3 separate regions of the Homo sapiens genome follow, and regions 1 and 3 are each linked to region 2. The links come from fine-mapping of genetic effects on gene expression. A gene starts in region 2. Each other region holds a variant in brackets. All regions are shown on one strand. Distances are from middle to middle. Region 1 overlaps ADAMTS14 (ADAM metallopeptidase with thrombospondin type 1 motif 14). Region 2 holds the start of ADAMTS14 (ADAM metallopeptidase with thrombospondin type 1 motif 14). Region 3 has its middle 33 kb from the start of PRF1.

What was found.
Region 1: its variant is fine-mapped to the expression of ADAMTS14 in monocytes after R848 (Quach 2016, PIP 0.95).
Region 3: its variant is fine-mapped to the expression of ADAMTS14 in cerebellar hemisphere (GTEx, PIP 0.93).

The regions. Positions count from the first base shown.
Region 1 is chr10:70,741,313-70,744,071 of GRCh38, reverse strand. ADAMTS14 (ADAM metallopeptidase with thrombospondin type 1 motif 14) reads right to left here. Exons shown (of 22, transcript NM_080722.4): 13 at 391-524; 14 at 1-6. Among named protein-coding and RNA genes, the nearest start is that of TBATA, 43 kb to the left of the region's middle. RefSeq lists enhancers at 202-1,005, 1,245-1,539. The variant G/A (reference allele first, on the strand shown) is at 1,274.
Region 2 is chr10:70,670,959-70,673,717 of GRCh38, reverse strand. ADAMTS14 (ADAM metallopeptidase with thrombospondin type 1 motif 14) reads right to left here and starts at 1,212. Exons shown (of 22, transcript NM_080722.4): 1 at 834-1,212. The coding sequence starts at 915. RefSeq lists a silencer at 2,331-2,625.
Region 3 is chr10:70,568,452-70,571,210 of GRCh38, reverse strand. No RefSeq gene overlaps it. Among named protein-coding and RNA genes, the nearest start is that of PRF1, 33 kb to the left of the region's middle. The variant T/C (reference allele first, on the strand shown) is at 1,601.

The DNA of each region.
Region 1 (2,759 bases), 70 kb before region 2:
GACAGGCTGAGGCCAGAGGTGAGGTCAGTGGGAGGAGGCTCCCCTGCCCCCACCGCCACCCCGGGGCTCCCATTCCCATCCCCAGGCCCTGGTCAGGAGAAGACCTCTGGCCTGGGAGATGTCCCTGGACAGGATTCTGGCACGAATTCACCGTGGGACCTGGGTGAGGTCTTACACCCGGCGTGATGAGGATTCTTGCCATCTCCTCTCCCCTCCAATGGGGCTGAGCAATAATTAGCCCCTTCCAGCACCCCAGGGCTATGCTGAGGACCAACAGGGTGTTGCGAGTGGGCCGGTGAGGCAATGCTCATCTTCCCAGGCAGGAGGGGCTACAGTGCAGCCCTCCAGTCTCCCTGTGCCGGTAGTCGGGGTGGCTGGGGGTGCACCCACCACACACTCGCCACGCGCACAGACGCTGTATGGGTCCCGGTAGCTGCAGCGTGTCCCATCGTGAACCACCTGGTTCATGAACACCACGTCCCCCGTGTCCGCCGACTGGCAGATCAGCTCACACTTCTGGGCGTCTGTAGGGAGAGGGACTATGCTGAGTCCCCAGCTGGGCTCAGAGAAAGTGGCCCAGGACAGATCAGTATGTGGTCCAGCCAGAAAGCTCCGGGGCCAGCTCTGGACAGTTGGGGGAGCACTGGGTGTGGCACGGGGGCTGAAAATCCCTGCTGTGTCACTTATTAGCCATGTGACCTTGGGTAAATGCTCTGACCTCTCCCAGCCTTTGTTCCCTATTTTTATTATCCCTAATCAGTAAAATGCCACATCGGCTTATTGAGAAAAATCAAGTGATAAAGTAATAATAAGCCAATGCTTAGTGAATGCTTACTATGTACTAGATATTTCTAAAACCTTCACATGCCCTTAAAATACAGCTTTAATGGCTTTTCATGAATTAACTCATTTAACCCTCTCAACACCTCAATGAGGTAGGTGCTAGCATTACAGAGGAGGAAATTGAGGACCAGAGAGGTTAAGGAACTTGCTCAAGTCCACACAACCACACGATAAGTGGTTCAGCCTGGATTCTAACCTTAGCAGTCTTGCCTGAGTCCTGCTCTGACCCCTACAAAACTTCACTGTGCACATGTATGACATGCGTCTTAACATGTTTGTAAACATTAGAAGGCTGCGTGAAAAAAAGGCAGAAAAGTGGTCTGTATCTGGGTTTGCAAAATGGAGCAACAGTCAGGGAGAAAGAGAGTCCTTTCTGGTCCTAACAATTAAATGTTTCCTTCTTTATGTGGGCTATAGATATCCTAAAAAG[G/A]AGGTTCCAGAGCATATATAAACACTTACTGTGCTTCTTAGAAAAAAGGAAGTTGGGGGCTTAGCTAACTTCCTGGAATTCGTCTAACAGTCCTGGGAAAAACCCAAAGTCCAGCTGCCCCACGGGCCTCCCAGCCCCTCCTCTCCCCAACGCTGTGGCTGCTGGTTTGGTTTCTGAATGGATCTGGAAGGCTTTCAAACCAAGATTCCCTCAGCCAATTACTAAGGAAACTCTTGGGCTCTGCTCTGGTCCCTGGGCTCCAGCACAGCTGGTAACTCCTTGTCTCCAGCATGAAGGACTCAAGTCTGGAGCCACAACCTCCAAGACCACCTTGGATTTCATCCACAGGAACCAGATTCCTGTAGGGACCTGGGTCTGGGGGAGCTCCAACCCAGGACAGGCAGGATCCTGACCCAGGCAGGCAGCTCTCTAGGCAGCAACGGAAGCCACAACCTCCAAGACCACCTTGGATTTCATCCACAGGAACCAGATTCCTGTAGGGACCTGGGTCTGGGGGAGCTCCAACCCAGGACAGGCAGGATCCTGACCCAGGCAGGCAGCTCTCTGGGCAGCAACGGAAGCTCTCTGGGCAGCAACAGTGCGAAGGGAGTGGTGAGCTCCCCAGAGTAGGAGGAATCCAAGCAGAGAGAAGACACCCCCTGCAAGGATGCTCTGGAAGAATCTGGCAATGACAGGCCTCTGAGGTCCCTTCCAACCTGAAGAGTCTGTCATTCTAGACCAGAGCTGAAGAGCTGACAGTTCTGGGGTGGAGCCCAGGCTCCAGGGAGGAAAGCCCGTCCTGATGGGAGCTGTCTGGGCCAAGAGTTGTGTGATGGAGAATGAGCATCTGTCCATGGAGGACCCATGGAGAGGCTGGCAGGGGAAAGCTGGAATCAGAGGATCATTGAGGGCTCTTCCAGCCGAGGCTCTGACTTGCCACGAATCCCAACCCTTCACTGGATGCTCTGCCGCTATGGAGCCATCACTGGAAACACTCAAAAATAGATGGGAACTGGCACCACTATGGTCCCCAAATTCAGACTCTTTACAGGAGTCTAGAAGTCCTGTGTATGTCCCAGGGCAGCCTAGAGAGTCGTTATGAAGATCCCACCAGATCCTATCTGCGTGCCTTCCAAAATCATCTCATCGACTCTGCTGAAACCACAACCCAATCAGTAAAACCTAAAAACACAGCGTGTAATAGGACTGAGCTCCTCAGGACACTGGTCATGCAACGGGAAGGGCGCCTGCACCTATATAATTCTTCTCCCTGCAGGTAGGGACAGAAGACGAAAGGCAGGCAACCCTAACAGCCAACACTGCTGCCGGCCTTGGCAACACCTGTGTGTGAAGTGTCCCTTCCTCAAGACACTTTCCTTGCATCTGCCAGAAAACTGTCATCATAAGTACACAAATCAGGGATGGCCTTGATGGGGATGATGACCCCAGAAGTATACCAAGAACAGGCCTACAAAAGGGTATATGG
Region 2 (2,759 bases):
CACACAGCTCTACCTCTCGTCTCCCCAGTTCACGTCACTGATGAAACATAGAAAGTGGTGTTTCCTGAAAATCCCCCATGCCCACAGCTCTAGTTTCATCCCCATTATAGCAGAGGACCCCTAAGACTGCTGCAAGAGGGGACCCACTCTGGCACATGAACAAGGCTCACAAACAAGGAGGGACCCTGCCTGGAAATGACCGGTGACTCCTCCCCATGTTCAGAGCCACCAGGAGGGTACCCCATGCTGCAGGGCGGGAGTGGAGTGTATCTGGTCTGTATGCAAGAGACCTGTGTCCACAGCGTTTGACAGTGCTACGTTGGGGGCAGTGGAAGGATGTGTGTTTCTGTGCAGGAGCGTGAGTGCCCCGCATGCTCTGCTGTAGGAGGCAATCACCTGTTAGCCTTATGCTGGGTATGTAACAGCCACACACAGACACACACACACACACACCCCTTGCACCCATGCTCACACAAGTTGGAGACAGAAAAGACATTGAAAGAGAAAGACACACAGGACAGAGAAACAGATTGGGGAAGAGGGGAAAGAAGAAACACAGAGAGACAAAGAGACAGATGCGCTGCTCCCGAGAAGAGACTCGATGCTCCCAAATTCTCTCCTGGGGTCTCTGTCTACTTCTAGTACCAGAAAGGGAGAGAAATCACGGGACAGTGCCGTGGCACAGTGGAAGAAAAGACAGCAAATCAGCCCAGAGTGTGCATACTGCCTCCCACCCGCGGGAACCCTGCCCGGGTGGCTGGGGCAACCTTGGGCCACCCTGACCGCGTGCACCCCGGACCCCACGGGCCCCCGCGCGCCCAACCCGCACGCACCTGGGGTCCGGCTGCCCGCGGCGGCGCAGAGCGCACAGTGCAAAGGCAGCAGGTAGGACAGCAGCGCGCGGAGTGGAGCCATGTGGCCGCGCTGGGACGCGGGCTGGGCAAGCGCCCGATCCCCAAGTCCCAGGCTGAGGGCGGCGAGGCTAGGGTGCGCCCCGGGCTGTCGGAGCACCGGCTGGCTGCCGCCGCTGCCGCCTCAGCCGCCTCCCCGCCTAGCTGCTTCCCTCCCGCCTGCTCCGGGTCCCCTGCGCGGCGCCGCCGCCTGGACCGCTGGCTCCGGGCGCGCGAGGCTGCCGGCTGGAGAGCGGGGCCACTGACGCGCCAGCGCACCCGGTGCCAACTGCCGGCTGGTCGGTCAGCCCGCCCGCGCAGTGACGCTCCGGGACTCCGCGGGAGCCGGGCGACGGGGCGGCGGGACGGGCCGGGGGTGGGCACACTGGGCGGGGCGGGGCCGGGCGCGGGTCGGAGCTGGGGCGCCGGGCGCCCGGGGGCGGGGCGCGCGGCTGGGGAGTGCAGCTGCCTGCGGCCGGGGATCGGAAGTGCCACGCGGAGACAGAGCAGGGGTTCCTGGCGCACGGACCGATTGTCCCCTCAGACGCCTGGGATCCCCGGAGTGGTGGCCCAAAGCCGCTTTCTATGGCTGCTCCGCCCCCTTTCTTGGCCGCAGGGCCTGCTCTCTGTTTCTGTTCCAGAGCCAGGAGCCCAAGGGGTGTCCGGCTGCATTTGGGAGTGTGGTGGACAGTGAACCTCCCGGTAGAGGGAGACTCCCTCTTTCTTTCACTATGGTCTTGATGCCCTCACTAACCATCGACCCCTTGGATCTACCCATTTTCCAGACTCCAGCCCAGGGTGCACGACTGACCTGTGTCCTAGCCAAGAGCAGGGCTGAGCCGGTGAGGAGAGAGCCCTGGCTTCAGAGTCAGACAGCCCTGATTGAAATCCTAGCTCTGAGCCTCAGTTGTCTTATCTGTGAAATGGGTGTTAACTACAGCACATAATAGATGCTCAATAAGTGATAACTGCCCTCCACTTCCATCCCTGACACCAGTAGCAACTGTGGCATCCCAAGGTGGAAAGAACCAAGAGTCTGAGAGATGAGCACTTGATGCTAGTCTTGCAATGGTGTTGAGACCAGGTCAGGAGTCAGTACAAACAACCCAACAGAAGATCCATGCTCTTGCTTTACTCTGTAAATATGTAACTAATAACTTGCAAATAAACTATATTTCAAGCAATCCAGGGGTGGGAGTTGTGGAAAGGAGATTTTTTTGTAATAACCATGGAATAAAGAATCTTGGAAATGATGCCAAGGTTTTGGAGGACCAGTGCATTTAAGAAGCAGGTTCAGAAAGCTAAAGTATATTATATTCCAAGCATTCCAAGCTACATCAGAGCATCCAGTTATTTGGAAATGCCACAACCAAATTGATCTATATTAAATTCAGGAAGAATAGAGTTCCTCTTTCTCCTCTTTCTGGTCTTTTAAGATGTGTGTTGGCTGCGTGCAGTGGCTCACGCCTATAGTCCCAACACTTTGGGAGGCTGAGGCGGAAGGGTTGCTTTAGCCTGAGAGGCTGAAGCTGCAGTGAGCTGAGCTTCAGCTCACACCACTGTACCCAGCCTGGGTGACAGAGCAATACCCTGTCTCAAAAAAAAAAAAAAATGATGTGCAAAGTCAAGGTCCAGACAGGATTCTGTGTGTGAGGGATGACAGAGCAAGAAAGTTAGAGGGTGTGTGTGTGTGTGTGTGTGTGTGTGTGTGTGTGTGTGAGAGAGAGAGAGAGAGAGAGAGGAAAGAGAGAGAGAGATAGGAAAGAGAGAGAGAGAAAGAGAGAGAGAGAGAAAGAGAGAGAGAGAGAGAAGGCTGGGAGATGACCAGGCTGGAGCTTCACAGCTCTGGCCCTCTGCAAACCCAAGCCC
Region 3 (2,759 bases), 100 kb after region 2:
CAGGCACTGTCCTAAAGGTTGCATGTATATTAACTCGTTTTTTAATATTATAATTCAGCAATATGTACTGGTATTTAAGAAAGAGACATAACAAAGAATGTATCAAAACATCACTAGTGGCCAGGCGCAGTGGCTGACACCTGTAATCCCAGCACTTTGGGAGGCCAAAGCAGGTGGATCACCTGAGGTCAGGAGTTTGAGACCAGTCTGGCCAACATGGCGAAACCTTGTCTCTATTAAAAATACAAAAATTAGCTGGGTGTGGTGATGCGTGCCTAAAATCCCAGCTGCTTGGGAGGCTGAGGCCGGAGAATCGCTTGAACCCAGGAGGTGGAGGTTGCAGCGAGCCAAGATCGCGCCACTGGACTCCAGCCTGGGCGACAGAAAAAGATTTCATCGAAAAAAAAAAAAAATCACTAGTTTAGATTAACACAGAGGAAAGATCAGACTAAATGGTACTTTCTTAAAATGAGCTGCTAAGTTGTATATGTTTACGGTGTACAAAAGGATGTCTTGAGGTATATATACGTTGTGAAGTGGCTAAGTCAAGATATTTAACATACACCTTACCTCACATACTTATCATTTGGTGACACATAGCTACCAAGTTACGAGAACACTTAAAATCTTCTCTCTGCAATTTTCAAATACACAACATTGTTATCAACTGTAGTAAGCATGATATACAATAGATCCCTTGAACTTACTCTAACCGAAATGCTGTGAACTTTGACCAACATCTCCCCAACCTCACCCCATTCCACCCCAGCCTCTGGTAACCACCATGTTACTCTGAGTTGGATTTTTTTAGACTCCACATATGAGATCATGTGATACTTGTCTTTTTGTGCCTGGCTTATTTCACTCAGGATAGTGTTCCCCAGGTTCACTCATGTTGTCACAAATGACAGGATTTTTTTTTTTTTTTTTTTTTTTGAGATGGAGTTTTGCTCCATGGCCCAGGCTGGAGTGCAGTGGCGTGATCTCAGCTCACTGCAACCTCCACATCCCAGGTTCAAGTGATTCTCCTGCCTCAGCCTCCCAAGTAGCTGGGATTACAGGCACCTACCACCATATCTGGCTAATTTTTGTATTTTAAGTAGAGACGGGGTTTCAGGTTTCACCATGTTGAGCAGGCTGGTCTCGAACTCCTGACCTCAAGTGATCCACTCACCTCGGCCTCCCAAAGTGCTGGGATTACAGGCGTGAGCCATTGCGCCTGGCCAGGATTTCCTTTTTAAAGGCTGAATAGTATCCCATTGTATACAGACCACATTTTCTTTATCCATTCATCCACTGATGAACACACTGATCCCATGTCTTGGCTACTGTGAATAATGCTGCAGTGAACATGGGGTGCAGACACCTCTCTGACACACGGATTCCATTTCCTTTGCATGTGTACCCAGGAGTGGGATGGCTGGATCATACACAGTCCTATTTTTGGTTTTCTGAGGACCCCCCACCCCAGTGTTTTCCAGAACGTGTATACTAACCGACAATACCACCAACAGGGTGCGAGGGTTTCCTGTCTCCACATCCTCGCCAGCACTTCTCTTCTGTCTCTTCCTGCAGCCATCCTAACAGGTGTGAGGTGGTT[T/C]CCATTGCCTTTCCCTGGTGATTAGTGATACCGGACATTTCTTTCATATGCCTGTGGGTCATTTGTGTGTGTTCTTTTGAGTTACTTGCTTTTTACTATTGTATTGTTTGGGTTTCCTATGGATTTGGGATACTAACCCCTTATCAGATGGATGGTTTGCAAATGCCGTCTCCTATTCGGTAGGCTCCCTAACTCTGCTGATTGCTCCTTTGCTGTGCTGGGTTCACTCATTTACCATGAGGGCTGAGATGCTGCTGACCAGCAGGAGCTACTGAAATGTGGGTCAGTGCCATTCATGTCATTGCTAAGCGTCCTCCCACAGGCTACAGCAGGCCCAGGGGAACTTGGGAACACACACAGGCACACCCACTCACTCCTGTGTGTCCCCACATCCCAGGGAGAGAATGGCAGAGCCACCCCCACCCCCACCCCCCTCCACCCCACCCCGGTGTACACAGCTCTACACTGGTGTCCAGAAGCCACACAGAGCATTCTTGCACCTAGAGAAGACAACTTCCATACCCTGCTGGGCTGGGAAAGAACCCCCGGGGCCTTCTCTCCTAGTCTGGGGAGAACACCAACCCTAGGGGCGGTGGGGGCTCTGGGTTCCATTCTGCCCACCCCAGCTGACCTCGGAACTACAACCTTGTTCCCCTAACCCTGCAAGCATGGGGGAAGAGGCCTGGAGTCAGTGCTGTCTCTACCCCACCCTCCCCACTGACTCTTTAAATGCCAGCACTCAACCAGGGGTGAGGTGTGTTCAATCAACCAGAGGCCCAAAGGGGTCAGGTGGGGCCCACAGGGGTTAGGGGAGAAAGTGGAGGCTGAGATCCAGGCTCCTTCACAGGCCCCCAATTCCACTTTGCTCTATACTGTTTCCCTAGATGCAGCAATCCTTCATATGTTAGTGAGAATTCGCTGGTTCCGTTGCTTTCTTCAAGGAGGAGCTCAGCCTGACATCCAGTGTAAGAGGGTGAGGCAAAACTGGGGATGCGTGTCTGCAAAAACCCGCCTGCTCTAGAGCTGGAAGTGCCAAGAACAGGTGCTCTCAACTCACTCTGCCTGCCCACCCTTACTCTGAAGGGGCAGGGACCTCAGCCTGTTGTACCAGTTCTAGAACGTCTGTCTGACACTAAAGACATATTAGCAGCCAGGTGCA